4 separate regions of the Homo sapiens genome follow, and regions 2, 3 and 4 are each linked to region 1. Evidence: fine-mapped expression QTL. A gene starts in region 1. Each other region holds a variant in brackets. All regions are shown on one strand. Distances are from middle to middle. Region 1 holds the start of CD5 (CD5 molecule). Region 2 overlaps LOC105369325 (a long non-coding RNA gene). Region 3 overlaps LINC02954 (long intergenic non-protein coding RNA 2954). Region 4 overlaps LOC105369325 (a long non-coding RNA gene).

What was found. PIP is the estimated chance that this variant, and not a neighbour inherited with it, causes the effect.
Region 2: its variant is fine-mapped to the expression of CD5 in whole blood (INTERVAL, PIP above 0.99).
Region 3: its variant is fine-mapped to the expression of CD5 in whole blood (TOPMed, PIP above 0.99).
Region 4: its variant is fine-mapped to the expression of CD5 in whole blood (TOPMed, PIP 0.94).

Annotation. Positions count from the first base shown.
Region 1 is chr11:61,098,064-61,106,063 of GRCh38, forward strand. It overlaps CD5 (CD5 molecule), which reads left to right and starts at 4,426. Exons shown (of 11, transcript NM_014207.4): 1 at 4,426-4,552. The coding sequence starts at 4,498.
Region 2 is chr11:61,021,273-61,029,272 of GRCh38, forward strand. It overlaps LOC105369325 (a long non-coding RNA gene), which reads right to left. Exons shown (of 2, transcript NR_188502.1): 2 at 7,591-8,000. Among named protein-coding and RNA genes, the nearest start is that of LINC02954, 30 kb to the right of the region's middle. RefSeq lists enhancers at 363-412, 4,911-5,476 and a silencer at 7,405-7,464. The variant G/A (reference allele first, on the strand shown) is at 4,978.
Region 3 is chr11:61,057,018-61,065,017 of GRCh38, forward strand. LINC02954 (long intergenic non-protein coding RNA 2954) reads left to right here. Exons shown (of 4, transcript NR_186234.1): 3 at 4,694-4,858. All of the region lies in intron 1 of LOC105369325 (a long non-coding RNA gene), which reads right to left. Among named protein-coding and RNA genes, the nearest start is that of LINC02954, 5.6 kb to the left of the region's middle. RefSeq lists enhancers at 1-213, 3,899-5,098, 4,164-4,403, 4,754-4,993. The variant G/A (reference allele first, on the strand shown) is at 3,921.
Region 4 is chr11:61,075,861-61,083,860 of GRCh38, forward strand. All of the region lies in intron 1 of LOC105369325 (a long non-coding RNA gene), which reads right to left. LOC124902677 (a long non-coding RNA gene) reads left to right here. Exons shown (of 2, transcript XR_007062690.1): 1 at 1-331; 2 at 1,787-2,049. Among named protein-coding and RNA genes, the nearest start is that of CD5, 23 kb to the right of the region's middle. The variant T/C (reference allele first, on the strand shown) is at 4,811.

The sequences.
Region 1 (8,000 bases):
GATAGGACAAAACTGGCACATGTGCCCGTGCAAGTGTGGCATGAATTTGATCCTGGGGCCATGTTTGGAAAATGGTTCCCAGCACTAGGAGGATTTAAAACTCTTATAATAGGAGTTTTAATAGTAATAGGAACCTGCTTACTGCTCCCTTGTTTGCTACCTGTACTTCTTCAAATGATAAAAAGCTTCATCGCTACCTTAGTTCACCAAAATGCTTCAGCCCAAGTGTACTATGTGAATCACTATTGATCTGTCTTGCAAGAAGACATGGTAGTGAAAATGAAAGTGAGAACTCCCACTCATGAGTGAGATTCTCAAAAGAGGGGAATAAGGGAGGAGACCACCCCTCATACTGTCTTATGCCCAATTTCTGCCTCCAAAGAAAGAAGAAGTAAAAACTAAAAGGCAGAAATGAAATCTGCTCGGCACCACACCTGGGCTTGGTAGTTAAAGATCGACCCCTGACCTAATCTGTTATGTTATCTATAGATTACAGACATTTTATAGAAAAGCACTGTGAAAATCCCTGTCCTATTCTGTTCCATTCTAATTATCAGTGCATGCAGCCCCCAGTCATGTACCCCCTGCTTGCTCAATCGATCATGACCCTCTCAAGCAGACTCCCTTAGAGTTGTGAGCCCTTAAAAGGGACAGGAATTGCTCACTCAGAGAGCTCAGCTCTTGAGACAGGAGTCTTGCTGATGCTCCCGGCTGAATAAACCCCTTCTTTCTTTAACTTGGTGTCTGAGGGGTTTTGTCTGTGGCTTGTCCTGCTACAGGTCTAAGTGGAATCTAAGTGGAGGCATCACTGAGCCAGCCTCTCCAGCCCAGGGATGGGGAGGCCCCAGGCCCTAGTGGACCTGGACCAGTGATCACGTCCTTGAACTACTTCCTACCTGCCTGGGGTGGCCCAGAGTACAGGAAGCCCAAGGAGCCAGGAGCTTTCTCATCTGGGAGCACAAAGGATGTGAGGAAAAAACGGAACCCAGCCCAGCCCAGGGAAACACAGGGACTTTCCCCTGCCCCGGGCTTCCCATCTTCTTTGCAGAGACCCTGCCTCTTCTTCAAGGGGGATGATTCCAGACCCTCTAAGAGCAACAGGGACACGGAGCTCACATACATACCCCACATCAACATGGAGATCACACACCTCAACACGGAGATCACACACATCAACATGGAAATCACACACACATATCGAATGGGGATTACACACATCAACGTGGAGCTCATACATACACCCCAACATGGAGATCACACCCACAACACAGAGATCACACAAGTCAACATGGAGATCACACACACACATCAACATGGAAATCACACACACACATCAACATGGAAATCACACACATCAACATGGAGATCACACACACACATCAACATGGAGATTACACATACATCAACATGGAGATCACACACACATCAACATGGAGATCACACACACACATCAACATGGAGATCACATTCGCACACATCAACATGGAGATCACACACACACATCAACATGGAGATTCACACATATCAACATGGAGATCACATTCACACACATCAACATGGAGATCACATTCACACACATCAACATGGAGATCACAAACACACATCAACATGGAGATCAAATTCACACATCAACATGGAGATTACACACACATCAACATGGAGATCACATTCACACACATCTACATGGAGATCACATTCACAACACAAACATGGAGATCACACACACATATATCAAATGGGGATTACACACACATCAACCCCAACATGGAGATCACACACACAGCACAGAGATCACACATGTCAACATGGAGATCATACACACACATCAACATGGAGATCACACACACATCAACATGGAGATCACACACACATCAACATGGAGATCACACACACTCGTCAACATGGAGATCACATTCACACACATCAACATGGAGATCACACACACACATCAACATGGAGATCACACACACACGACATGGAGATCACACACACACATCAACATGGAGATCACTCACACACATCAACATGGAGATCACACACACATCAACATGGAGATCACATTCACACACATCAACATGGAGATCACACACACACAACATGGAGATTACACACACACATCAACATGGAGATCACACACACATCAACATGGAGATCACACACACACAACATGGAGATCACACACACACATCAACATGGAGATCACACACACATCAACATGGAGATCACACATACATCAACATGGAGATCACACACACACGACATGGAGATCACACACACACATCAACATGGAGATCACTCACACACATCAACATGGAGATCACACACACACATCAACATGGAGATCACATTCACACACATCAACATGGAGATCACACACACACAACATGGAGATTACACACACACATCAACATGGAGATTACACACACAACATGGAGATCACATTCACACATATCAACATGGAGATCACATTCACACACATAAACATGGAGATCACACACACACATCAACATGGAGATCACACACACATCAACATGGAGATCACACACACAACATGGAGATCACACACACACATCAACATGGAGATTACACACACATCAACATGGAGATCACATTCACACACATCAACATGGAGATCACAAACACACATCAACATGGAGATCACACACACACATCAACATGGAGATCACATTCACACACATCAACATGGAGATCACAAACACACATCAACATGGAGATCACACACACACATCAACATGGAGATTACACACACATCAACATGGAGATCACATTCACACACATCAACATGGAGATCACACACACATCAACATGGAGATCACACACACATCAACATGGAGATCACACACACACATCAACATGGAGATTACACACACATCAACATGGAGATCACATTCACACACATCAACATGGAGATCACACACACACATCAACATGGAGATCACACACACACATCAACATGGAGATTACACACACATCAACATGGAGATCACATTCGCACACATCAACATGGAGATCACACACACACAACATGGAGATCACACACACACATCAACATGGAGATTACACACACATCAACATGGAGATCACACACTCATCCACATGGAGATCACACACACACATCAACATGGAGATCACACACACATCAACATGGAGATCACATTCACACACATCAACATGGAGATCACAAACACACATCAACATGGAGATCACACACACACATCAACATGGAGATTACACACACATCAACATGGAGATCACATTCACACACATCAACATGGAGATCACACACACACATCAACATGGAGATCACACACACACGTCAACATGGAGATCACATTCACACACATCAACATGGAGATCACATTCACACACACAAACATGGAGATCACACACACATATATCAAATGGGGATTACACACACATCAACCCCAACATGGAGATCACACACACAACACAGAGATCACACAAGTCAACATGGAGATCATACACACACATCAACATGGAAATCACAAACACACAACATGGAAATCACACACACATATCAACATGGAGATCACACACACACATCAACATGGAGATCACACACACATCAACATGGCGATCACAATCACACACATCAACATGGAGATCACACACAACACAGAAATCACACACGTCAACATGGAGATTACACACACATCAACATGGAGTTCACACACACATCAACATGGAGATCACACACACTCAACATGGAGCTCACACATACACCTCAACATGGAGATCACACAACACAGAGATGACACACACAACACAGAGATCACACAAGTCAACATGGAGATCTCTCTCTCTCTACACACACACACACACACACACACACACACACACACACACACTGGCACAAGCCCAGCATTCATGGCGCAGCCATCTCTTGTACTTGCTAGCAAAACACCACCTGTGGAAAGTCAGCTCAAACTTCCAACCTCATCCCTCACAAAGGGGGAATGGAGGGTTTGGTTTTGGCTTTCACTGGAGTCTGCAACAAGAACTGGCATCATGCTGCCCATTTCCCGCCTCTCCCCACCCAGACCCCTGCCTCAGGGACGCCTGTCCTCAGCCCAGCCCTCAGCTGCAGCCAGGCCTTCAGCCTCCGTAACCCCCGCTCAGGGTCCCCACCCCCTGCAGCCCTGTCCCTCCAGGATGCATGGCCTTGTCCTGTGTGGGGGTGGCCGAGAGCACTGCCCCAGCCCTGGGTACCTTGGGCAGGAAGCTGGCAGAGGCCAGGGCTGCCATTCAAACAGGGGCAGGTGGTTTTGCCAGGAGGAAGTTGACAGTTCAACTTCAAACATGGGTGACGCAGGCCCCACACTGCCTGCTCCCCGTCCCACCCCTCCCTGAGCACGCCACCCCGCCCTCTCCCTCTCTGAGAGCGAGATACCCGGCCAGACACCCTCACCTGCGGTGCCCAGCTGCCCAGGCTGAGGCAAGAGAAGGCCAGAAACCATGCCCATGGGGTCTCTGCAACCGCTGGCCACCTTGTACCTGCTGGGGATGCTGGGTGAGTACCCCTCCCAGGTGTCCTGCGAACACCCGGGCTCGCTCCAGTGCAAGGAAGGAGTTCCCAGTTTTACCCAAGGCTGACTCTGGGATCCACATGTCAGCCCTCTGGAGCGTTGTGGAGATTTGGGGCCACTGGGATCCCTGCCTGCCCCCACTAAGCCGCAGCTTGGCCCTCTGTCCTGCATGTCCCACCCGCCAGGAGCACAACCTTGCCTCTCTCATGCGCTGTTGAGAACCCTGCTTTACCCTTCCAGTGCAAGAGAGACTGCAGGGGGGACCCGCATTTGATGGGGCCCAGACAACTTGATTCCTAGGCTGAGTTGGATTTTAGCAGAGCATTCAGGCCTCCCTCTGCGAGGTCCCCCACTGACAGCCCAGCCTTTACTTGGTCGCCTCCAGAGACATGGAAACTCGCCGTCTCCGAGGCAGCTCTGATGATGCTCTGGACAGACAGTGGGCCGAGGCAGGGTGGAGCCGCCTCTGAGGACGATGTCTGAGCAAATGTCAAGGACTCATAGCGGAAGTCCTAGGCCCTCTCATGCCCAGTCCTGGGTCAGTCCCAGAGGGGCCCAGCCAGGCCGGCTGGGATGAGTACACGCTGGGCCTGCTCTCACTCCAGCCCTGGGTTGTAAGCCCAACCCTGTGTGACCTCGGATAGGTCCCCAAGCCTCTCCAGGCCTTGATCTCCCCATTTATGAAATGTGGGGGTTGGGGGTGTGAACTGGATGAGGCCTGACCCACTTCCTGAGGATTTAGAAGGTCTGGCAGGGTGACAGAGGTGCGTGACTCTGGGCTGGAAACAGGAGGATGCGAGCAGCTTCCAGGCTGGCAGGGAGAGGGTCCGGAGGCCTTGCCTGCCTGAGCAGGGAGCCTCAGCAGCCTTCTAGGGAAACCGGGTGTGCAGGTGTGAGTGTGGGGGAATGCATGTGTGTGTGTCTGTGTGCATGTGTGTGAGAACTGTGTGTGGGGGAATGTGTGAGTCTATGTGTGTCTGTGTGAGTCTGTGTGTACGTGTGTGAGAACTGTGTTGGGGGGTAATGTGTGACTCTGTGTGTGAGTCTGTGTGTGAGTCTCTGGGCATGTGTGTGAGTACTGTGTGTAGGGGAATGTGTGAGTCTGTGTGTGAGTCTGTGTGTGAGTCTCTGGGCATGTGTGTGAGTACTGTCTGGGGGGGAATGTGTGAGTCTGTGTGTGAGTCTCTGGGCATGTGTGTGAGTACTGTGTGGGGGGGAATGTGTGAGTCTGTGTGTGAGTCTGTGTGTGAGTCTCTGGGCATGTGTGTGAGTACTGTGTGTGGGGGGGGAATGTGTGACTCTGTGTGTGAGTCTCTGGGCATGTGTGTGAGTATTTTGTGGGGGGGAAAGTGTGAGTCTGTGCGTGTGAGTCTGTGTGTGAGTCTGTGTTCATGTGTGTGAGAACTGTGTATGGGGGAATGTGTGAGTCTGTGTGTGAGTCTGTGTGTGAGTCTCTGGGCATGTGTGTGAGTACTGTGTGGGGGGAATGTGTGAGTCTGTGTGTGAGTCTGTGTGTGAGTCTGTGTGTGGGAGTCTGTGCGCATGTGTGTGAGAACTGTGTGTGTGTGCTTTCATGAGCACAATGCGGCCTCCAAAGGCAGGATTATCTCCCCAACACATGTGACAATGGCACCTGTGCACACATGTTCACATGGTTCTTCTCACATGTAACAACAACAGGTACAAAATGCCTTCTGTCCCAAAGTAAGAGGCCTGAGACAGACCTCTGGCTGGCTTCAGGGACCCTGCTAAGGAGGGACCAGGCCCTTAAACCCCCCACCTGCTCCTCACCTCTGGCCTCAGACTTCATTGAGATAGGGCGGCTCCCAGCTGAGTATGGGAACCCGTGTCCTGCTCTAGGGCCCTCCCAACTGAATCCCATCATGGGTGAGGCTCCTGATGGCACCAGGCAAGTCCCCTGGCCCAACACAGGCCACAGTCAGGAAGACTTGGAGGTAGCCCCTTCACCCCAGTATGGGGACCTCCTTGAACCCCAGGAATACTCAGTTCCCAGTGTCTGAGTGAGCCGGTGGGTACCAAGCATTCCCTTTGTTCAGTGGGTAACGGTTTACAAAGCACTTTTAAAGCCATTTTCTGCTGCAAGCTTCACAACAGCCAATGAAGTAGGTGGGCCCATTGGCCCCATTTTACAGTGGGGAAAAGCGAGGCCCAGGAAGGCCGAGTGCAAACCCAGGGTGCAGCAGCTGGTGCACAGCCGAGCTGACCCCAGCCCAGCATTCCTGCCTTCACAGAGGCCCCTCCCTTAGCTAAAAGGGAAGGCCACCAAAGGCACTTCCGTGTGCAGGAAAATGGCCCTGGGACACAACCTCCACCAGCAGAGATACAGCCACCAGAGCTGGGGACACCAAGGGCCAGGGTTGCTGGAGTCAAACAGTGCAGGCACCCTTTGAGCCATTCCAAGGAGAGAGGCAGCAATGCCAGAGCCCTGGGGACACCACAGCCTCCTGGCTGGCATCGGGGCTTGGGGACCTTTGGATCCTGAGGCATGAAGATGCCCCCAGCAGGCCTGGGTGCTAGTGACAGGCCAGGGCTTCCCACAGTTGCTCCCCTCTCAGCCCCAGCCTGCCTGGACAGCTGCTGGCAGTGAGGCGGGGAAGCGGCTCTAACACAAACTGCACGTCCCTGACTGGCCTAGCCGATGCGACTCTGAAAGCCAGCACTGGGACGTGGGAAAGTCATGGACTCTGCAGTTTGAATTCCAGTCTGCCACTTACCAACTGGGCGACCTTGGACTAGTTCTGTAAGCCTCAGTTTTCTCATCCGTAAACTGGGTGCAACAGTACCTCATAGAGGCTTATAAGGATTCAATGAATCAATGCACACAGAGCTTAAGTACAATCCTGGCATATAGTATAGTAAGTACTCAATAAACAATAATAACAGCAACAACTATGATTATTATTATTACCAGGGTCAGCAAGAAACAATGCGAGGTAGGAGCCAATGGGGAGGAGGGTCTTGCCAGAGGCCTGCACAGCCGTCAATCTCTCTACCCCTCAATCCTCTTGCACAGGCTATTTATTCACTAATTCATTCATTTTTCATCTACAAATATTATTGAGCATCTCCTGTGCATCCAGCTCTGTGCAAAACACTGGGGATACAGGGACCAAGGCAGGAGTCCCTGCCCTCAAGGATTTGATCAGCTAACAGGAGAGCTGTTAGAGAACACAAGTAAACAAGCACCAAAGACCGGGCATGGTGGCTCATGCCTGTAATCCCAGCACTTCGGGAGGCCAAGACGGGTGGATCACCTGAGGTCAGAAGTTCAAGACCAGCCTGGCCAACATGGTGAAACCTCATCTCTACTAAAAATACAAAAATTAGCCGGGAGTGGTGGCACGCACCTGTAATGCCAGCTACTCAGGAGGCTGAGGCAGGAGAACCGCTTGAACCTGGGAGGCGGAGGTT
Region 2 (8,000 bases), 77 kb before region 1:
GGAATTTGAGGCTGCAGTGAGCCATGAATGATCACATCACTGCACTCCAGCCTGGGTGAGAGTGAGACTCTATCTCAAAAACATTTTTTTAACACTGGGGATAGGAAAACAGAACCTGACAGACTGAGAGGCAGGGTCTATGAGAACTCAACCTCACTGCCTCCCTGGGCTGCTCCACAGCAGCCCTGGGCTCAGCGGCAGGGGTTACTGCACTGAATGAGTTCCCGCCTGAGCCCCCAAATCTTCAAAGGTAGTATAATTCCAGGGAGTTTTATGCTTAGAGTTGCCTGGAAAAGGATTGCACCACCCCAGAAGGAAGTGGGGATGAGGCTGGTGGCGCTGGAGGGGACTGGAGCGGATCCGCACTGAGAAATCGGCATTGCCTCCAGTCCTCTGCCCATTCAGGGCTATGACTTTATCCCTGCTGCCATGGCCAGTGCCCAGCTCTGCCTGCGGGGTGAGGGTTGGGGCTCAGGTTTTCTCCGAGCCGTCTCGGGAGGGGCGGATCATGAAGGAGGTGGGGCTGTGTGGTGGGCGGGGCCTGCTTTCCATTCACCTGTCCCAGAGGTGGAGAGAAAGCCGCGCTCCCCAGGGCAACCGTCACAGGATGTGGTTGGCAGTGTTGGGCCCCCTCCTCGGGCCCTCTGAACCCTCCCCAGGGTGGCGGGGGATTCCTAGGGGAGGAGCCACTTCTGGGGTAGGTGGGGCAGACTCAGCGGCAGGGGGCTTGTGAAAGCCTGTGTTCAACTCCCCACTCCACCCCTCCTGGCAGTGTGGCCTCAGGCAAATCACTCAACATCTCTGAGACTTTGTTTGCTGTAAGTTGGTCTGTAGAATGTGTGGGCAGTAGTGGGTAACTCACAGGTGGTGGTGAGGGTTAGAGGGTTGGTAGTAAATGACCCCGTCATTGGTAGATTAATCACTGCAGGTGAGAGCGCTCCTTAAAAGGAGAAAGGGGAAGCCAGGAGGCACTCAGCAGTGCCTGGGGTCTTCAGTGCGTTAGTGCTGGGGGCAGGGCGGGGCAAGGGTTGGGGGAACATGGAGAATGTCTTGTCCCACTCTCATTTTACAGGTGAGGACACTGAGACCTAGGGTGGGAAAGGACCTGTCCAAGGTCACTGAGAGTTAGTAACAGAGTCACAATTCAATCCTTCCCCACCTCGTGCCCGCCCCAGCTCACACAGGGAGATGGCAATGCCTTCTGAGTCACCCCCATTTCCCCAACCTCCCCGGAGCTGCCTCTCTCACCCCAGCTCTCCCACCCAGGGCCCCCCACAGTCTCTGAGAAATTGGGAAGCTCTGCCCTAGCCCTGGGCAGTCTGAAGAAACAGCACCACACACAGTAGGAGGGCTGATCCCAGCTGGCCCCTGTCTCTATGTCTCCCAGGGACTCAGACCTGGGACCTGCACCTTATTGAGCCGACATGGGCCAGGCCTGTGCTGAGACTGGGAAAGCTGAGATGAATGACAGCCAGGCTCTGACCTGAAGGAGCACCAGCCTGGCAGGGAAGTCACAAACATAAGCAGGTGGCTTCCCCTCCACTCCTGGGAGACCTCATTATAATACGCCTCAAGGATCTGGGACAGGAAACACAAAGAGGCTCAATGGACTTGGCAGCGGAACCCAGTGGTTCCAGAAACATTGGCGTGGGGGGAAAGGCTGTGTCCCAGAACGGAAGCACCCAGCAATTTGACTGACAGCTCTGCAAGCTCAGGCAGAGAGTGATGCACAGGGAATTCCTGGGAAGCTGATGCCTGATCTGGGTTGTAGAGGATGAATAGGAGTGAACCACCGACGTGGAGAGGGAAAAGCATTCCAGGCCAAGGGAATGACACGAGCGAAGACACAGCAAGAAACTGCACGGCTCGCGAGGTCAAGGGAGGTCCAGTTTGAGAGGAGATGAGGCTGGGGATGGTCAAGTCTCACACCAACCCCATTTCATGGGTGAGAAAATTGAGGCCCAGAGAGGTTAAGTAAAAAGCCAAGGTCACACAGCTAAATAATGACAGTGCTGGGACTTAAATACAGCCTAGCTTCAGAGTCTGAGTGTTAATCATGGCTCTTCCAGTGTCCCTGTGCCACCACAGCCACACGGCTGGGCATTATTACCAGAGCCCCAGCCTAGAATCTGGAGACACCGGCCTATCTGCCCACCAACAGCACAGGCACCGGCTGCATTCTGGGATACGGGGTTCGGGAATGTAGAATCATCACTACCAGGCACCCTTATAGAGCCAGCTCTGTGCTGAGCTCTGGGAGGCACAGAAAGGAATGGAGCCTGGCCCTTGCCGCTGGGGAGTTTACAGGACCTGGGGCAGAGAGAGACCAGTAACTGCCGTTCATCAACATGGTGATGATGACGGTGGGTAGCATTTACTATGTGCCAGGTATGTGTTGTTTCATACAATCCTCATAAGGGCACTCTGAGAAGGTATTATTCTCCCTAATTCGTAAATAGGGCAACTGAAACCCCGAGAGATTAGATGACTAGCCAGAAGCCACACAGCTTGGCAGGTAGCACAACTTTTCCACCTCACTGCAAAGCCCCAGTGTGAAAACACCACGCCGCACAGCGAGGGCTCATGATAAGCATGTTTAACCCACATGAACTTAAGTGTGTGCTCAGCAGCAAACAGAAAGACAAGGGGCAACCCAGCCCAATATTTCCCTTGGTTGAACAAACACCCAGGAGGAGACAGACAGGAGCTGTGGAGCCTCCGTTCCCTCAGATCCTGGAAGCCGTTCATCCTGTGGGTACCTTGCCATGCTGGGTGAGATTTTAGCTGTTGGGGATTCATTTTTCATACACGGTGGGCCTGAAACAAAGCCCACCATTTCAACGAGCTGCTCTAATGCTGCAGGGAAAACACCTGGTTTGGAGCCAGAGCAGGGCAGACTCACATGCAGGCGTCTTCCTAAGGGAGTGTTCTTTCCTTTCCCTCACTCCCTCCCTCCCTGTCTGCCCTCCTCCCTCCCTTTCTCCCTCCTTCCCTCCCTCCCTCCCTCCCTCCTTCCCTACCCTCCCTCCCTCCATCCCTTCCTTCCTTCTTCTTTCCTTCCTTCCTCCCTTCCTTCTCTTTCTCTCTCTTTTCTTTTTTTTTTTCTTTTCTTTTTTTTTTTGGGATGGAGTCTTTCTCTGTCACCCAGGCTGGAGTGCAGTGGCAGAGTCTCATCTCACTGCAACCTCCGCCTCCCAGGTTCAAGCAATTCTCCTGCCTCTGCCTCCCGAGTAGCTGGGATTACAGGCACACATCACCACGCCCAGCTAATTTTTGTATTTTTAGTGGAGATGGGGTTTCGTCATGTTGGCCAGGCTAGTCTTGAACTCCTGACCTCAAGTGATCGTCCTGCCTCAGCCTCCGAAAGTGCTGGGATTATAGGCATGAGCCACTGGGCCCAGCCCTTTCTTTTTTTAAAATGGGAAATACCTTAACCGTATTAAAACTCCAACAACATGAATTCATACCATTAAAATCTTGCCCCCTCCACCCTGCCCCTTCCTCCCCACCCGGCCCACCCAAGGTAAACACAATTGTGTCTCTGATGTAGAAAGAAGCAGATGTGAACCCCTCTTGCTGCCTACCCCTTCTTATACAGAAATGACGTCCGGGCACCCTCTTGGGCTCCTTGCTTCTTTTTACTTCTCTGGTATCCCAGATAACGTTCCTAAGGGAAGAGTGATGCTACCCATATTTGAGTTTCTCCCACATGCTGTCCAAGCAGATAACTTTTGCCTCATGTAGGGCTCCACCACACCACTACAGAGGCTGTGTGGACAGAGAGGAAGAAGCCACTAACTGCCAGGGTTTAGTGGGAAAAGCATGACAAAAGAGGGAACAATCAAGTCGGCCATTGAAGGTTGTGTAGGAGTTTGCTGGATGGATGAGTGAAGGATGTTCTCAGTAGCAACACGTGCAAGTATGGTGCATGCCGCCTGAAGGCCAGGGGAAAAGGGGGTGCGCAGGTGGGAAAGACCATGGGGAGCATCTCCAAGGGTCTTGTGTAACTTGACCCTTGTCATTGTCTTAGACCTGCTGGGAGTTGCGAGCAGTTTCTAAGGCAGGGAAGTGATCCGATGAGACGGATGCTCTAGAAAGGTTGCCGCTATGAAGCGGAGGGAGGTTTGATGGGGCTGGGGCCTGGAGGAAGGGAGGCCAGCTGGGGGGTGGTCAGCACTGGGAGATGGAGAAGAGGGAACGAGTTGGAGACGGATTCAGGACTTGGAGAGTGATCACAGACATGGGAGATGATTTTCCAACACAGCAGCCTCCAGCCATGATGACAATATGACGGTGACATTAATGATAGCTTCGATTCCTGAGGGCACACTCAGAACCTGTGTGTCGGGCACTGTTCTGAGCACACTGCAGGTACTGACTCATGTATGCTCTCAACAGCCCCATGAAGAACCAGCATCATCCCCATCTTATGACTGAGGGAACAGGCTCAAGAATGTTCAGTTTTTCCCAGGGCTATCAGCTGAACATGGTGTGGCTGGGCCCTGGCTGCCACTGCCCCTGCCCTCCTCCTTTCCATGTGAAGGTACAATCCACACCAAAGGCTCACTTCTGTGCCTCCCAATGCCCAGCTGGAGCCACACACAGCTCTTCAGGCCCCACAATTAATTGGCATCCTCCAGACATCTGAGAGAGCCCAAGGGGACCAGGTCAGGAGCACGCTCTGGCAGGATTATCCCACCAGGGCCCACATGGATGTGGCTCTCAGGCTCCGAGGCTGCTCCCAGGGAGCACAGGTACTGGCTTTCCTTCCTTGGCAGGGCATCACCTGCGGGTCCCTAACCTTGTCCCCTGGAAACCTCACCTCCGACGTACACCTGTCCATCCCCCACCCCTCCCTATCGCCCCATCTGCGGTTTCCACTTCCGCCCCTCTCAAAGACCCTCTTCATGGTTCTGGTGAACGGACAGAGCGGCTGGAGCCCGTGTGGCCACCTGGCGTGGACCTCTCTTGGCCGCC[G/A]TCCCCGGCCCCCCGTCCTCGCTTCGTGAGGATGGGATGGAGTCTCCAGAGTGGGGAGGTGCAGGGGAGCCCCAGGGAAGGGATGGGTTGAAAGAAGCTTCAGTGGAAAGTTCATCTCCCGCCACATCCTTCAGCTGTTTACCAGTTTGACGGAGTTCTGGCATCCTGACATGAAAAGAGGCTCACCTCTCACCAACATCATTGAGGAAGGACCGAAATAGCAACAAAGGGAGACAAAGGAGGGGGGCGGGGGGTGGGGAGAGAGAGTCATGAGACAGAGAGGAAAAGAGGAAGACAGAGGGAGGGAGCGGTGTGCCTGAGCAGACAGTGGAAGGCAGGAGCAGCCAGACAAAGCCTTTGTCTTCCCTGGCCCCGAACCCCGCACTTGCTGGACCCCTTACATTGTGGCCTCACTTAATTCTCAAAACCTCCCAGAGCCTTAAGGTCTCCTAACGTCTGTTACCTTCCCTGTGGGAAAAGTGAAGCCCAGAGAAGTCATGGGACTAGTTCAAGGTCACCCAGCTAGGACCAGGGGAGCCAGGTTCACAGCCAGTCAGTGCAGCTACCACGGGGCAAGCAGGAGGGCGGGGAGGAGAGAAGATGGAAAGGTGATAGGCTGGAGGGGGAGAGGGTGGGTGGGAGGCCGGGAGACCATGACACGTTCTGTCCTGGGGAAGGATCCCCCACCCCCTCCGCAGAGGACCCGGGCCCTATCCTGGCTGAGGGCAGGTGCCCCCTCCCTGGCTCCCTTCCCCCAGCTCGTCCCACTTGCCCAGCCACCCACCAAGTGCAGAAGGAGGGGGAGGGGAGGGAGTGGTCCCCAGGGCCATGGGCTCTGGCTGAGATTCATTTTCCTTCAAGCCCCCTGCTCACAAAGAGTCCCTCTACCTGCGAGGTCTCCTGCCTCCCCTCCCTACGCTTAGCCCGACCAGGCCCACAATCACTGCCTCCTCTTCATTCTTCCACACAGTGGGGAGACAAAATGATCCTCGTCCAGACACTCACAGACACATTCCCCTCCATGGCCTCCAGGTCACACACACGGCTCTCCCTAGAAACAACAGCACTGGGTCCATGGGGCTCCGCTTCCTTCCCATGGCCTCCCCTCTGGGGTGACCATCCCTCCCTCCAGGCCTCACTCTCTGCCCTGGTTTCAAGGCAGGTGAAGGCTGTTTCTTATCTGAGGATGAGATACTAAAATAACTGGGGTCAGTAGCCCCCCTCAACTTTTCTGCATAGCCAAGACACAGCAATACCCTTCATCGCATCACTCCGATAGTCACCCTCTTTTCCCCCTTCTGTGGCCGGTGCCGTGACTTCCTGCAGTCTGCTCTGCGTTTGCTGCCCTTGCCTGCAGTCCTCCCACCTTCTTGGCAACCTGAAGACTAGGTGGGTGCATCCTGCGTGCAGCAGGAGAGACTCGGTACATGCTAGAGATGTACAGCCCCAGACGCATGTCTGTCCCTGCAGGACCCTCTCAGCTCATGCCCACGCTCACCCTCTAGCAAGAACAACCCATCCTGTAAGAGAGCCCTTCTGTGGTCCAGGGCCAGGCAAGGCCACCCACCGCAGCCTTTCGTCCCCAGGCCACCTACCCTGGGGATAGCTAGTGTAGGGCTGGAAGCAGCCAAGTCCTCCTGCTAACATCAAAGCCCCTCTGGCTGTGGGGACCCCTCTGAAGTACATGGGTGATGGCAGTAGCATTAACCCTGGAGCTCTGCCCAGTAAAAACCCCAAGATCCCCTCCCTCCCTTCCTGTTCCAGGAAACTCACCTCTTCTGCCCATACTCAAGTCTTCCTACTGCTTTGTCAAGCTCTCTTCTCCTTTCCTGATTTTATGGCTTGTTCTTTCTTTCTTTTTCTTTTTTTTTTTCTGAGCCAGGGTCTTGCCCTGTTGCCCAGACTGGAGTGCAGTGATATGATCATAGCTCACTGCAGCCTTGACCTCCCAAGCTCAATCAATCCTCCTACCCCAGCCTCCCAAGTACCTGGGACTACAGGCACACGCCACCACTCCTAGCTAATTCTTTCTTTCCATTCTTTCTTTTCTTCCTTTATCTCGCTCTCTTTCTCTCTCTCTTTCTTTTTCTCTTTCTCCTTCCTTCCTTCCCTCCTCTCCTCTCTCTCTCTTTCTTTCTTTTGACACGAGGTCTCACCATGTTACTCTCAAATGCCTAGGCACAAGCGATCCTCCCACCTCAGCCTCCCATAGTGCTGGGATTACAGGCATGAGTCACTGTGCCCGGCCTGCCTGTTCTTTCACTGAGACATGTTTGAGATTTGTATGCACCTTGCACGCACCCAAAAGCACACTTTCCTCCCAGCCCCTCACTAGTATCTGGCAGAGAGCCCAGAACCCTGACTCTGCCCCCGAGAGTGAGCTCCCTGCACACAGGCTGGCACAGCCTTGTGTCACCACTTTATTGACTGTTCTTAACTCACTGACCCAAGGCCTGACCATCCCAGTGGGATGAAGCCCCAGGGGCAGAAGGAAGTTGATTTAAGGCAACATTTGTCAAAACTGTAATCCATGTACATCTTCACAGTTTTTGCTTTATCTGTAGACCATTTGTTCTTTGGGTCACTTGATAGTTTTTCTTTAAGTGGACTCACTTATTTAAAACTTAAATTTATTTAAAAAGGAATTTTTAGACATCTTAAAAAATATCTGGCAGGTACTTTTCAAAAATGCCAATGTCATAGAATACAAAGACTCAAAAACTGTTTCAGATGAAAAGAGTCAAAGAGGCATCCCGAGTGAAGGCAAGGCATGACCTGACGTTTTCTTTTGCCATAAAGGACATTACAAGGACAGGCAGTGAAACAGGAAGGAGGTCTAGTGACTACAGGGTTATATCAGTGTTAGTTCCCTGATTTTGAAAAGTGTACTATACTTATGTAATAAAATAGTCTTGCTTTTAGGAAATACACACTGGAGTACTGACACATTTAGAGGTAAAAGAGGCCTGGTGCGGTGGCTCACACCTGTAATCCCAGCACTTTGGGAGGCCGAGGCAGGCGGA
Region 3 (8,000 bases), 41 kb before region 1:
CAGGAGATGCTGAACAGCCCCAAAGGAAGCCAGGCTGGATTTCAGGCTCCTCTGCCATGGAGCTGCAGCTTGGTTAGGGTCCGGGTGCTTCTCCCTGGATTACCTGGAGAACACCCATCGCCCCGTGTCCCTGGCAGGCTCACCGGCTCAGCCTTCCTTGACCCCCAGCCCCCTGGCTGTACCTTACCAGCCCCTGCAGTTCCTGGGAAACAGGTCTTACCCAGATCCCAGAGTGCGCCTCAGCCCACCTGTCACCTTCCCACTCTAGAAACTCAACTCCAAACCCACCTCCTCCATGAAACAAGCGAGGAGTCACAAACATCCCCAGTGCCACCCCTCTGAGTTCCACAGGCCTGGCTCGGGCACCAGCATCTCAAGCATGTGGGCCGAGGCCCGGCTTCCTGCCCTGGGAGCTGGTCAGGCCATTGCTCATCCTCAGGGAGGTGTCAGTGCTGGTAGAGGCTGCAGATTGCCTCAAATGTTTTAGAATGTGACGTTTCCCCCAGGGGCCCAAGGTTAACCGATTCCAAGCACTCAACAGCACTAAGAGTGCATTCTCTCAGTGCATCCTCAAACTAAGGCTATGAAGCAGCTGTTGTTACTACCTCCATTTCACAGGCATGGAAAATGACGCTCAGAGAGGTTAAGTAACTCAGGCGGGTAAGTGGCAGGGCCAGGATTCGAACTCAAGTCAGACGGACACCGCAGTCCACGCTCCTTTTTACAGCCACACTGCTCCACCTACCTTGCCGTCCTTCTCACAAGAAGACACAGGAGGAAAGAGTCTCAGATCAGGAGTCGGAGCTGCACAGCCGTGCACTAGGCGTGTTGCCTCAGGAGGCCAGGAAAACGGCTGAGTCCCGCCTATGGTTTGGGCTGAGGCCCATAGTGTGGCCTGTGATTTATCCCCCAAGCAGGACACTTTGAAGAGTAAAAGAGGCTTTTAAGCTATTAATAATGATGATAGGACAGTGTTGGTCAGGACTGTCCCAGGCAAGCAGGATATGGGGTCACCCAACATGGAGTTGAAGTTAGCTAAACTCTCGGAACCTCGATCTCCTTATATTTAAAGTGAAGATATCATGAGCACCCACTAAAATAATTTGTGAGACCACACTAAACTATAAAACCTTACATCCAAATGTAGGTGTTTTGTTTTGTTTTTTAATTTACAACAACAAACAAGACTGGGTGAACTCATTCATGGTCTAACTTGACCTTGGGCAAGTTATTTTCTTTTTTTTTTTTTTTTTTTGAGACGGAGTCTCGCTCTGTCACCCAGGCTGGAGTGTAGTAGCGTGATCTCGGCTCACTGCAAGCTCCGCCTCCTGGGTTCATGCCATTCTCCTGCCTCAGCCTCCCAAGTAGCTGGGACTACAGGCGCCCGCCACCACCATGCCCGGCTAATTTTTTTTGCATTTTTAGTAGAGACGGGGTTTCACCGTGTTAGCCAGGATGGTCTCGATCTCCTGACCTCGTGATCTGCCCGCCTCGGCCTCCCAAAGTGCTGGGATTACAGGCGTGAGCCACCGCGCCCAGCCGGGCAAGTTACTTTCACCCTCAGGACCTCAGCAAAGTAACTGGTGGTGTGATGAAGGGGTCTGCCCGCATTTGAGTTGTAAACTGACAGCAGGTGGGCCACATTTTCTCTATATGACAAGTTTTGTTCGGTCAGTAGAGTGTTGACGTTCTTGAATTTGAATGCCACGGCCCTGCCACACCCTGTTGGCTTGTACCTGGCCTGGCCTGATCACAGGGTATAGACATCTGCCTGACCCCTGTAGGTGCCTAGGTTTGCAGCCCCTGGAATAGACACATTCGAAAGCCCCTTCTCATCCTGACATCCTAGGAGTCTTCCTAGCACTGGTAAGTACCCCGACTGAAGGTGTATAGGTAGATTAGTTGCAACGGATGTTCCACATTAACCTCTTAGATGAGTAACGTTCAACATTAATCAAAACACAAGAAAATCTCCTCCTACGCAATACCAAAGTCTTAATTCAACAGTCAGTCAGGAGAAATAGAGTCGCAGAATCAAAGGGTCGTCACAGCCGGGTGCAGTGGCTCATGCCTGCAATCCAAGCACTTTGGGAGACTGAGGCGGGAGGATTGCTTCAGACAAGGAGTTCGAGGCCAGCCTGGGCAACATAGTGAGACCCTTTCTTCTAATAAAAAAAAAGAAAGAAAGAAAGAATAAAAGACACTCAGTTGGGGTTTTGGTTTTCCACAAGTTGAGGTTGCCAACCTCATCAGATTAACCTCGAACCCTGACAACTAAGGAAAGAGAGTGGAGGAAGCAAAGAGCCTCTGCCACCTGTGTGAGCCTCAGATTCCTCCTCCATAAACCCGAGAGACTGATGTGTACCTGGCTGCATTGAGAGGGCTGCGTGAGCTCCACCGGGCACAGAGTCCAGCAGGCAGAAATGCTCAGTAAACAGAGCCCTACCATCCACTCTGCTCTCGTCCACCGCAGTAGGCAGCCTTAAAATGGGGTCACTCTGCATAAAGAACAAATACTTGTCAGCAGCTCCACCCTGCCATCTTTCTTGTGCTCAGCTTCTTGGAGAGGCAATGTGGTACGCTTTGAAGGAGCACTACATTTGGAGTTTTGATGACTTGCATTTGAATCTTGGCTGTGCCTTTCGTGGCAGTGCATCCTCCAATGACCTCCTTGACCTTTCTGGGTCTGTTTGTACATCTGCTAAAAGGGGATCATGATGACCTCTGCCCTGCCCACTTCACAGATCCTCATCCTATCCATTGATAACCCCACCTGTGAGATCCTGTAGTAGCTGATGTACATGTTAACCGTCATTATCAGTTGAGAAACTTCTCAACTAGGACCAAGCCCTTCACATCTACTCCTGTTTCTGCCACTGAAGCAAATTAAAAAATAATATATATATATATATATATATATATATATCACCTTGGACCTTTTATTTTCTAGCAAGGATTATCCATAGTTATTATCTACACAGGGTGGCTGGTCCCAGGGGTGTGATTCCCATTTGGGGTAATAAGTAAATGCTCTTCGTAGCAACTGCATATGAGGTGAACAAATACAGCATGCCAATAGCGGGACCCTATCGACAGATGAAGCCAGGATTCCAGCACTTACTCCCAGAGCCAGTTCTTCATTATTCAAGATACAAGATCAAGGCTGGGTCCAGGTTCTGTTGAGCCTGAAGCCTATACAATTTGGGGGTCCCTCTTTAAAAAATATGATAATACACAAATAAAATTAGATAAAGGGTGCCTGTAATCCCAGCACTTTGGGAGGCCAAGGCGGGTGAATCACTTGAGGTCAGGAGTTTTAGACCAGCCTGGCCAACATGGTGAAACCCTGTCTCTACTAAAAATACAAAAATAAGCCAGACATGGTGGTAGACGCCTATAATTCCAGCTATTCAGGAGGCTGAGGCACAAGAATCTCTTGAACCCGGGAGGCGGAGGTTGCAATGAGCCAAGACCATACCACTGCACTCCAGCCTGGGCGACAGAGCTAGACTCCATCTCAAAAAAAAAAAAAAAAAAAAGATAAATGGCCTTGGGAGGGTCCTAAGACTGACCTTCTCCAGCCTTGTGGTCAGTCTGTCTGGACCTGTCTGCACATCATCCCTTTAATTATTTCCCAAAAGCTCTACATCACAAACGCATTATTGAAGATGAAGAAACGGGGCTCAGAGAGGTAGAGGAATTTGTCCAACCCAGTTGTCCAGGAAAGACCAGGCACAGTGGACTCCAAATCCCATATTCTTCCAGCCACAACATGCATTTCTTGAATAAATGCTAAAAGATGTGGTGGGTAATTGGTATTGATGAATGGAACACAAATTTGGGGCAAGTTTCAGGTTCACCCTATCCACACCCTACCCGACTCCCACCAGAACTCCTGAATATCACAAACATCCTTCCAG[G/A]ACCCCACACACAAAAAGTCCCAGGTTATAACCATATTAGAGTAATGGAAAATGAGAAAATGGAAAAAACCTCCATCATTCCCAGCAAAGACTCAACAGGGCCCTCATGAAGCTCCACCTTGTTCCCACTGAGGCAGCTTCCGGCAAGTGCCTGTTTGTACAACCAGCGAGAAACACAGCTCTTGCTGATCTTAATTCTTACCCCCACTCGTTCAGTTCTCTTATGATGACAGGCACCTCAATTCAGTTTCGCAGCATCCCAAAACGTGCCGGAGTAGGCTGGGTGAGACTCTCGGGGCTCAAAGTCTATCATTACATCTTGGTTGCGACCACAGAGGGTTTTTTTTTTTCTTTTAAACACCAGCTCAAGGGCAGAAGAATTAGTCAGGGCACAGATCTTCCGGATCGCTACTGTATGGGGACCATAACATCACTGTAAGGCCCCTGTGCTGAGCCACAAACCCCACTTGGAACAAAGAAAACTCCCAGGTACTTTACCAGACACCAATTGCGCCATCCTGTTTGGGACACAGTCATTTGGCACTCCAGGTTCTCAACCCATAGTAATAACGCCTCATGCTTTTGAAACTGAAAAATGCATCCAAAAAAATCTCAGTGACACATCATGACTCATGTCCCATCCCCACCCCCACTCCCACCTCCCTCCCGCCCCACCCTAGGGAGGGGGGCTCGTCCTTTTCATTCACCCCTGATGTGAAACCAGGTTGGTCAGTGCCTGTCAATTTCACTTCCTGTTTCCTTGCTTCCATCAGAGAGCAGAGCTGTGAGGAGGGATAGATATTATGCTGTGGTGCAGCCAGACAAGCCCCACCTTGTTGTGCCTCCAGAAGAAGCACATTCTTGGCCTGGGTGGTAACAATAACATCTGGATGGAAATATCAAGTGGTATCAGGCTTCCAGACCACCATTCATGAAAGGTGCATCCACTTAGTAAGCCTCTATGGAGGCCTCTTCTGGGCCAAGTGTTTGTTCGAAGTTGTGTATGGACAGAAAGATATTCCTCCTCTCAAGGTGCCCACAGTCCAGGGCGTACTGAGAAGCCAACAGATAATGCAGTGAGATGGCTGTGGGGATTGGGGTGTTACAGAATTGGGGTGGGGTGGGGACAGCCTGCTTTCAAGGAGTCTAGGCAGGCATCTCAGAGGTGACAGCCAAGACTAGATGGAGGACAATAATAAGGATGATGACGATGATGACACTGATGAACAATATGTGCAGCGTTTTCTAACACTTTGCATTTGTTAACTCACGTATTCTTCCCAGTCACCCTTATTCCCACTTCATAGAGGAGGGAACTGAGGCATCAGGATGGTGAGTAACTGGCCCAAAGTCACATAGCTGTTACAAGCACTATATGAGGACAAGCTGACCTGCCAAAGACAGCGTAGGGATCAGGACGGAGAAAGTCACAGAGAGGAAAGGGCATGGCATTTATGGAGAGCTGCCAACATCTTGGGGCCACACAGCAAAGGGCAAAAGTGGTCCCAACATGTGGGTGTGTGGCCCACAGACACGCTTTGTTGATGGCCCATATAGTGTTTTAAGATATATATATAAACCAACGCTTGAAAATTAGGCTATTTCATATAAAAACTCAGATTCCCAAAATTATGTTGAACAATCAGGATCTGGAAACATGGAGGCCATATTCTTCCATGGCAATAATCAGAGTTGGGTTGGTTCTCTTTAGATGGGGTGTAGCCTTCACCCTGTTTCCGTACAGCCACTTCCACTGCCTGATGTCCCCTTCATCCAGTCCCATTAATCCACCAACGTGACCTGCCTGGTGTGTGTGAGACAGGGCAGAGTCAGGGCACAGAGCTACAGAACTTGGACTGAAGCGTTTCCAGTAAGAGGAGGGCAGTGGTGATGCAGCCAGACTCCTACTGCGTGGAGATGAGTCCAGCAGCTCCCTGGAAGAGGGACTGCATGGAGCATAAGACTGCAGCAGGGAAGAGGAGGAGAGGATAAAGTACTGTTCATGCAGGATCAGAACCGGGGCAAGTGTGAAGAGGTCCCTCTACTGAACTTCTACGGAGGTTGATTTTACCGGAAATCTTTTCTCTATTTTCTCCCTGGGGCTCAGGATATAAGCTATACTTAGCAAGCAGTACTTTTTCATATGGAAGACTAAGATTCGCAGAGACCCTGCCAAGGCAACTTACATAGAGCCAAAGGAGAAAAATTAGGCAGATGCTCTCGGGGGAGTTAATTTTAAGGCATTACAGCATTTAATACACAGATTCCACTTCAGTGTTAAACCAAACCAGTCGCAGAGGCTTAAAAAACAGTGGCCAGGTCAACCACTTCACTTTACTCCCAGCCCCCAAAACCTCTCCTGCCCACCATGTTTTCAACTTGAAGCCACACTGAACCATGGAGCACTGTTAGGAAGGCTGGAGGTGGGCAGAGGGGACAGCCCGAGATCATGGTGCCACGAGAAGCTTCCCTCCAGTTGGGGAGATGGGGCCAAGCCCCATGGACCACGAGTGAGAAAGACACATCATGTTTCTATTTCACGTGTGCCATTCACGTGCTTAGTTCTGGGACGCTGCAGAGAAGCAGCAGTTACAGACCTGCTGATGGTGTGGTCAGGAAAGAAGCAGGAAAAGGGTGGGGCACGGTGGTGGCTCACGCCTGTAATCCCAGCACTTTGGGAGGCCGAGGCAGGCGGGTCACCTGAGGTCAGGAGTTCAAGACCACCTGGCCAACATGGTGAAACCCTGTCTCTACAAAAATAAAAAATTAGCTAGGCATGATGGCGGGCGCCTGTAGTCCCAGCTACTCGGGAGGCTGAGTCAAGAGAATTGCTTGAATCCGGGAGGCGAAGGTTGCAGTGAGCCGAGATCACGCCACTGCACTCTAGCCTGGGCAACTGATCGAGACTCTGTCTCAAAAAAAAAAAAAAAAAAGCAGGAAAGTAATTTGACAACTAGGAGATCTATGACAACACTTCACTCAGCTGTGGAAAGGTCTTGGGTGTTAGGGTCACATTTGACAATTCTGCCTGTTTGCTGTGTGGCACTGATGCCTGGCTGAGCTTCTCTGTGTCTGTCTCCTCATCTTTTAAATGAGAGCGCTTTGTACACTGGGAAGTGACCTGTGGATGTGAGAGGCCCTGTTGCTATGTGTCCTCTTCATCATTGCTTGCCTATTTTACTATATTTTTTTTTTTGAGACGGAGTCTCGTTCTATTGCCCAAGCTAGAGTACAGTGGCGTGATCTCTGCTCACTGCAACATTCGCCTCCCAGGTTCAAGTGATTCTCCAGCCTCAGCCTCCTGAGTAGCTGGGACTATAGGCACGTGCCACCACATCCAGCCAATTTTTGTAGTTTTAGTAGAGACAGGGTTTTACCATGTTGGCTAGGCTGGCCTCAAACTCCTGACTTCAGGTGATCTGCCTGCCTCGGCCTCCCAAAGTGCTGGGATTACAGGTGTGAGCCACCGCGCCTGGCCACTTGCCTGTTTTTCAATCCAGGGCTGGTCCCCCGGCTGGAAGTCTGCAGAGAGGGTCGAGCCCTCCATCTTTCCTTCTCTCCCTTCCCAAAGTTTCCCAGCTCTGCTGCTATCCCAGGACCCTTTCTTAGGCTATAAAATCCACACGAAGGTGCTATTCAAAAAGATTCCCGCATTTCCTACTTTGAAAGGGCACCCTAAGGAGTGACTAACAGTGATATTTCAGGAGGCACTGGGTGGTCGTGTCTTGAGCGCTCAGATTCTACCCCATGAGCATCTACATTCAATCAAGCCAGAGACCAAGATAAAAGCTAAAAAACCCAACCAAGTTTCCAGGTTTTCATAGTGGTTGGCTCCATGTAGACTGGAATTAGCAAACAGGTTTCAATCCATGTACCAGATCTGATGGTATGAAACACTGATTATGGCCGGACACTGTGGCTCATACCTGTAATCCCAGTACTTTGGGAGGCCAAGGCAGGAGAACTGCTTGAGCCGAGGAGTTTGAGACCAACCTGGGCAACATAGCGAGACCCCGTCTCTACAAAAAAAAATAATAATAATAATAATTAGCTGGACATGGTGGTGTGTGCCTGGGGTGC
Region 4 (8,000 bases), 22 kb before region 1:
GTCTTGATGATATCTGCAGTTTTGCACATACATATACTGTGTGTGTGTGTGTGTGTGTGTGTGCACACGCCTATATAATTAACAAAGAAACATATCCTCACTGGCCCTGTGCAAAGCTGTTACAATATTTATTTTAGGAATGAGGAAACAGTCCTGAGTTCTATCACTTGCCCAAGAAACTCACATGCTGTGAGTGACTACAAAGGAATTCCAGTCCCAGCCTGAACTGAAAGCCAGGGAGGACCCTTCCCTGCCAACTCGCCTGCCCTAAGCACAGAGCGTGGCTGTGCGAATTGCAGACTTGGTGGATGACGGCTGTGGGGAGTTAGAGGTAGGAAGTGATCATGCATTGTTTCTCCAAATGCTGTATTTAATAATATTTCAGATAATCAAAACTACTGTAGTCAACTGGGGAAGTATAGAATTGTTAAGAAGCAGGAAAAAAAATACCAACCCCCCAGAGACAATTACCATTAGTATTTTGGGATATTTCTTCCAATATTTTAATTGCGTTTATAAACATGGTTCATATTACATTGTAGGTGTGATTTTGCATCTCTCTTTGAAAACAACACTGTATCAGATTCATTTTCTTTTGTCATTAAAGTCTTCATAAACAACAAAATTTAAAAAGAGATCAATATTTTAAATAGCAGTAGTTTACTTACTATCTAATTTCATCCTGCTTACCTACCACCCACCCAAACCCAACCAGCAGAGCACCCAACTGTCCCATCTAAGATAAAATATACTCGGTACATATTCTGCACCAAGCAGAGAGGTGACTAAGACACGCTGTACCTCATAGCACACAGCAAAATTAACTCTGGGTGGATTAAAGAGCTAAAGGAAAAAAAAATCACAGAAAGACTTGAAAAAAGTTGATGAGAGTATTTATCAAACCTCTGTGTGGGGGAGGACTTTCTAACCCTAAAGCTATGGGAGAAACCACAAAAAAAAGATCACTAGATTTGGCTACCTAACATTTTGATACCCTGTAAACAACCTGAACAAAAAAGGTCAAATAGCAAGTGGGGTAAAATCTTTGCAACAAACATAAAAAAGATTAGTAGCCATCATAAATAAAGAGCTCATACAAATCAATATAAATCACCCACTGAGACCCAAATGCCTAACTGGGGAAAGGCTTAGGAGTGTGCTATCCAATATAGTAGCCACTAGCCACATGTGGCTATTTAAATTTAAATTAATTTAGGATTTAAATTAAAATCTTAGGTAAATTAAATTAAAATCAAGTTTAAATTAAAACCTTAGGTAAATTAAGTCTAAATTTAAATAAAATTAAATTTAAATTTTACTCAGTTATCTAGCCATATTTCAAGTACTCAATGGACACATTTGGCTGGTTGCTGCTGGACAGGCAGATATAGGCCACGTGGACCCTATTAAACAGGAAGATACAGGCCATTTCTATCATTGCAGAAAGCTTGATTGGAAAGCACTGCTTTAGACAGTGCGCAAAAGAAGACTCACCAGTGACCAATAAACACATTTAGAAATTCAGCTTCATTAGAAATAAAAGGAGTGCAAACTAAAACAAGGTCACATATTCATCTAGTTAGGAGTAAACAGGGTATTGCTAATTGAAGAGTAAAGAGTTACGGACCATCTGGAAAATAATTTGGCAATATAAGTTAAGAACTGTAAAAACCCTCAACCCAGCAATTCAGTTCCTGGGAATATGCGCAGCCTAAAGAAATTGTCAGAAATACACAAACCATTTTGTGCAGAAACGTATTGATTCCTAAATTATTTATTATTTCAGAGAGCCGCAGCCTGAAAGCCCAACCTCAGGGAAGTGATTACACCCATCAAGACCGACCACTCAATGGACGGACAAACCATCAATAAACATTATGTTTTGCCAAGAGGAACTAATGACTTGGGAAATACATACAAAAATAAATTTAAAAAACACCACATTCGAAACTGAAAGGTTAGGATAACATCAACTATAAAAATATGAAGACTATGCACAAGAAACTGCCAATTGCCAGAATAAATATCACTGGGTGATAGGATTCTGAATATTCTTTATGCTGTTCAGTAATTCCTGAATTTTTAACAAAGGTCATTTTCTGGTTTTATACAAAACTAGAAAGGTCACTAAAAATTCACAGGAGAGATAACCTAGTGATTAAGAGCAGGGATCTAAGCTGGCTGAGCCTTCGACGCCAATCCCCTGTTGCTCCCTGGCTCTCAGACCTCAGATGAGGTCAGCTCGGCTTCCTTGTCTGCAAAATTAATAACCACACCTGCCTCATAAGGTTTCTCAAGAACTGAGCAAGATGGTGCCTGCACAGTGCTGGGTAGAGTCTGTGCACATGAGCCCAGAACATACGTGAGGACTGCTGTTTGTATTAACATGGGAAATGCTTATGTTACTCTGTTGTCGCGTGACAAACCAGGACCCAGAATCTTCTATAGAACATGCTCTCAACTGGAAAAAATATGCTTTTTTTTTTTTTTTTTTTTGAGCCAGAGTCTTGCTCTATTGCCCAGGCTGGAGTGCAGTGGTATGATCTTGGCTCACTGCAGCCTCCGCCTCCTGGGTTCAAGTGATTCTCCTGCCTCAGCCTCCAGAGTAGCTGGGACTACAGGCGCACGCCACTGCGACCGGCTAATTTTTGTGTCTTTAGTAGAGACGGGGTTTCACCATGCTGGCCAAGATGGTCTCGATCTCCTGACCTTGTGATTCACCCGCCTCGGCCTCCCAAAGTGCTAGGATTACAGGCATGAGCCACTGCGCCCAGACAACATGTGCTTTTTCAAAAGTCCACAAAGACCAGGAGCTACTCCAAACTGCTGATGGCAGTTTGGGGAGATGGGAATAAATTTCCTCTCTTTGCTTAAAGAAGCATGAAAATATCTTTCTGTGCTTTCCAAATTGTCTCCAATGAGCATGCTATCTTCACAATGAAGGGGGGAAAAGCTTTATAAAGATAGAGAAAAGCTGAAATAAATAAAGGTTTAACTGGTTGTGCTGAGGAGGTCATCAGCTGGCACGCAACTGAGGCACACAGCCTCTGCAGCTGGTGGTTACTGGGGAGACCTCTGCCTTGTGGGATTCTGAGCTGATTTAATTTTTTTTCTTTCTTGAGACAGAGTCTCACTCTGTCACCCAGGCTGGAGTGCAATGGCGTGATCTCGGCTCACTGCAACCTCCATCTCCTGGGTTCAAGCGATTCTCCTGCCTCAGCCTCCTGAGTAGTTGGGACTACAGGCACCCGCCACCACACCTGGCTAGTTTTTGTATTTTTAGTAGAGACGTGGTTTCATTATGTTGACCAGGCTGGTCTCGAACTCCTGACCAACAGCCAGGTGAACTGCCTGCCTTGGCCTCCCAAAGTGCTGGGATTACAGGCACAAGCCACCACGTCCAGCCACATTTAATTTTTTTCTACATATTTTATGTATTTCCAAACTGTACAAGAGGTAGTAAATATTATTTTTCCCAACCAGAAGAAAAGACGTAGTTAAGAAAACTAAAGAAAACCTGGCCCTCTGCGTTGGGACTGGTGAGAGGGACGAAGGTAGATGGAAACAAGAACTGAGGGGCAGGGTGGGGGTGAGTGTTAGCACAGGGGCCCACCCTGCTGAGCCTGCGGGTGGGGCTGCAAAGCAAAGGCCTCCGAGCCTCCCCCTGCTCCACTCTGAGCCTTGTCTCCTCATCCACGCACAAGCCCAGGCCCAGCACAGCCGCAGACACGCCAAGGTGATGGGGGGCAGACTACCTGGACTGAGAAAGGGTTCTTTTTTATTTTCTAACCTTCCAATAAAACATCTGTGAATTTTTTCACTGTCAGATCAAATAAGAAAGGAACTTGCGTTTTGCAGTGCGTAGAGCTGATAACAGATCTATTGCATTTCTGAAATGTACAGAAGTTTTTTCCTCTTGAGAACCTGGGAGTAGTCGTCCCCACCCTGTCCCCAAAGCTGGGCCTAGTCATGACAAGCACTCCAAAACCCACAGGTCCCAGGTCCCCATACACCTGGGAAACAAAAGCATCTAACATCAAAAAGGACCACGGCCATAAGGAGGAAGAAACACCTTCTCAGGGTGAGGCTCGCCCACCCCCCTCTCTGCCAGGCCAGGCTTTGCTGTGTCCAATCCCCTCTCCTCATCTCTGAACTCCTCAAATTCCTGGGAGAGACGAAGCCTGTGAGGCCTTTTTGTCCACTAAAAGTAGGGGGCCAGTGGGACTTAGTGTCAGATCGGTTTTGCTGGTCATACTTCTGAGGTGCTGAATTTAGAATTTTGGTTGACATGAATGGGCTGTTCCTGGAGTCAAAGAAGCCTGTGGTGATGCAAAAAGAGATCAGGAAAATCCAAAGGAACAGGATAGTTTTGTGGGACACTCAGGGACTCTGGGGTCAGACAACAGAACCATCCACTCTGGGCCACAGCTATAATGCACGGACAAGAACCCATGCTTGTAGGATGGCAGTGTGCAGTAGGTTACACGGCTGCTGCATGAAAATTACTAGAATTAACCCTCTCTGGCCCCTTCTGTTGTTCCCACAGCAACAGGGAAGGTTGAGGAATAACAGGATGAAAGGACCCGGGATCCAGAACCTTAAGTCTGGACCAGCTATGTGGGCCTGTGTCAGTCACTTGACCCTGGGGGGACTCAGCTTTCTTCTCTATATAACGGATTCATTTCAGCTCCAACTATTGAATCAAACAAGCCCCAGCACCCTACCTGAGGCTCCTCAGAACAGAGGCATCCTCACCTCATTGCAGGAGCTGGGAAGACGAAAGAAATGCTATAATCTCTAGCAGAACAAG[T/C]AACTGCACAAGGAGCTCAGCAATGAAGACACAAAGCACAAACCCCAGGTCACCAAGCCGCGGTCTCCGAAGTGGGGAGAACTTGCATTCTCTGCAGCTAAACCTGGCAAACCAACAAAATATGAAACCACACTTCCAGGCAGACCCGCCTTGTACTGCACCAGAGCTTCTAGAGCCTTTTTTTTTCCTTTTCTTTTCTTTTTTTCTTTTTCTTTTTTTTTTTTTTCTTTTGAGACGGAGTCTCGCTCTGTTGCCATGCTGGAGTGCAGTGGCGCAATCTTGGCTCACTGCAACTTCACCTCCCAGGTTCACGCCATTCTCCTGCCTCAGCCTCACGAGTAGCTGGGACTACAGGCGCTCACCACCATGCCCAGCTAATTTTTGTATTTTTAGTGGAGACAGGGTTTCACCACAGCCAGGATGGTCTCGATCTCCTGACCTCGCGATCCGCCTGCCTCAGCCTCCCAAAGTGTTGAGATTACAGGCATGAGCCCAGCATAGAGCCTTTTTTAGGGGCATGGGAGGCACTGAGGTGCAGACTAAAGGTGCGGGCCTTCTCCCCAGAAAAACACACAAATGACCACCCATGGTGTCAGGCAGCTTGTGGAACACTGAAGGACAAACATGGATCCCAAGGTCAGGACGCCTGTTCCACCCAGGGCTCAGTGTGCCCCTAGACAACTTCCTATGCCAGGGGCACCCTCAGAGGAGCCAGAAACCAGACTAGAGCCCCAGTAGCTCTCAATGAAGTGCCTGGAGAGGGAGCTCTGTCCCCAGCTCTGGGGCCCACGTGTCGTTCTGGCTACCTTGAGAAGCTGGGAGTAGAACCTCCTCCCCGCTCCCTGGGATTCCCAAACTCTGGCCAGAAGAAAGGGAGCTCATTAGCTGGGCCCCACAGGCCTCCCTTTAGATTCACTCACAACTGGGGGGCAGTGAATAACAGGACCTCAAAAAAGGAGTTCTCTGTCCCAAAGCCTTTGAGGGTCTCTTGGGCTGAAAGATCCCATTTCCAGGGGTGGCTGCTCCGTGGCATGCCCGACTCTGGACCTCAACATAGAGAAGCCTCTCTGATCCCCGACATCAGCCCTTGTCCCCAGCATGCAGCCTCCCTCTTTGGGATCCAGATGCTGGAAGGACTTCAGCTAAGCTCTGGACCCCACAGGAGAAATCTTCATTTGCGCTTTAAGTAACCCATTTTCTCCACACATCCTGTATCAGAAATTGTCCTGGAACCTGACTGGACACGCTCTGTCCGCACTGTGTATTAGCGGGGTCTGGAGAGGAATGGGCTCTCGGGATTACAGAATTTGAGACTTCTCACTTTTCTATCTAACCCCTTTGTCAGAGGGGAAAGTCAGAAGGGAGCTTAGACTCCAGAAAAGATGGAGGAAGAAGGAGCAGGCCATACCTCAATGCAGAGAGGGAACCGAGGAGGTCTTCCTGGGGGAGGAAGCCTTGGCAGGGCCTGGCTGAGGGTGAGAGCGGAGGCAGGGCCAGGTCCAGCTTCCTTCCGCCCCCCACACTCTTTCCCACACCCTACCCAGACCTCACCCATGGGCGTGTTGCCCAGCATCAAGCCCGGGGCTTCCTGCCCAATGCCTGTCTCATCCAGGGACCTCGGCAGCCCTGCACACTGGTCAGATAAACCTCACAGGGGCACAGAGAGCAGGCACTGAGAGTGGCCCCCTGGAGGGCAGGATCCAGCCCCCACAGAAACACACAGCCCAGTAAAGGGGCTCCCCTGCAGCCCCCTTCCTGCCGGGCAAGGCCACAGGCAGGGTGTGGCTTGTATGCCATGGGGCACGCTTTACTTTCCAGCCTGGTACACACGCGGCAGAGTGGTCTTGGTACAGAATCAAAGGAACGACACTCCGAGGTCACAGATTACCCGGCTGGTGCCATCTGCTTCTGACAGTTGGATTGCGTTTTTCACAGTTACAAATCACGTCCCTTCAGGAATATCGGGAGGGGACCTGTGTTCCTAGGCACACACTCATCCCAAGCTGCCCTCCTTGGCAGAGCACGTGGGGAAGTGGGTGAGTAGTGAATGTTCCTGCCAGATGCTGGCCTCTGCTCTACCTACCTCACGCCATTTAATCTTCATGACAATCTGATGAGGCAGGTACTAGTGTTATTCCCATCTTTCAGAGGAGCTTGCACAGCTGGTGATTGACAGAAAAGAAAAAGGGGCTCTAGAAACCCATTTTAACCCCCTGTCCCTGCCAGGGAGGCTGCCCTGAGAACCAGTCTGTCCTGGGACCCCCTGCTGACCCTCATCACCTAGTCTCCCTGCCATCCCACCCTGTCCTGCAGAGAGGTTAGGACGCAGGAGCTGTGGGTTCCCACCAGCCCAACCCTTCTTGCTGAGCATCCTGGGGAAGCCCCCTAACGTTGCTGGACCGCCATGCTCCTGTGTGTAGGGCCCCACGGCCTCAGAGTTGGGTATGTCCTAACAGAAGTTGACCTCGTAGAGGACAACGCCTGATCGAGCGGAGGGTATCCTCTCAGCGGGAGAATCAGGAGCCCTGGGTCCCTGTTGGTTCCTTAACTTGCTGTGTGATCATGGGCAGGGCGCTTCACCTCTCTGAAAGATGGGGCAAATGTCATCTTCGCTGTCTTCCTCCTCCGGTTGTTATGAAGATCAGGTTGATCTCAGTGATGAATGTGAAAGTGCCATGCTCAGTGAAGATGACTCGAGGCAGACACAGGCAGGGGTTGTTACTGACAATGGTGACCACAACCCTTGCCCTGCCCGGGAGCAGGGACCCTCCCCTGCTTTGCAGATGAAGTAAAGTGAGGCTCTAGGGAAAGCAGGTTTCCACTCCAAAAACATCAGAGACTTGTTTTGCCTTTAAATCCTTCACAGAGGGAGACTCAAATCCCAGACTACAAGTTCCCTGCAAGGGGACAGAAAGGATCTCCAGGGCCTCAGATCTCCCCTGGATTTACCAGGCAACTGGAACGAGGTATAAACAGCCAAGGACTTAGTATCCGGAGATGCAAGTGCAGGCTCTGCCTCTGTTTCTGTTTCACTGGGGATGTCGTAGTCAGTTTCCTCGTTGATTGCGCGGGGACGGGGCACCTGTCTGCTTGACAGCGCTGTCAGGGACATGAAGTGCGATGCTTCCGTGCAAATGCTTTGTAAAGTGCAGTGCTCCAAGAGAGGCATTAAGAGTGTCCAAACCATACA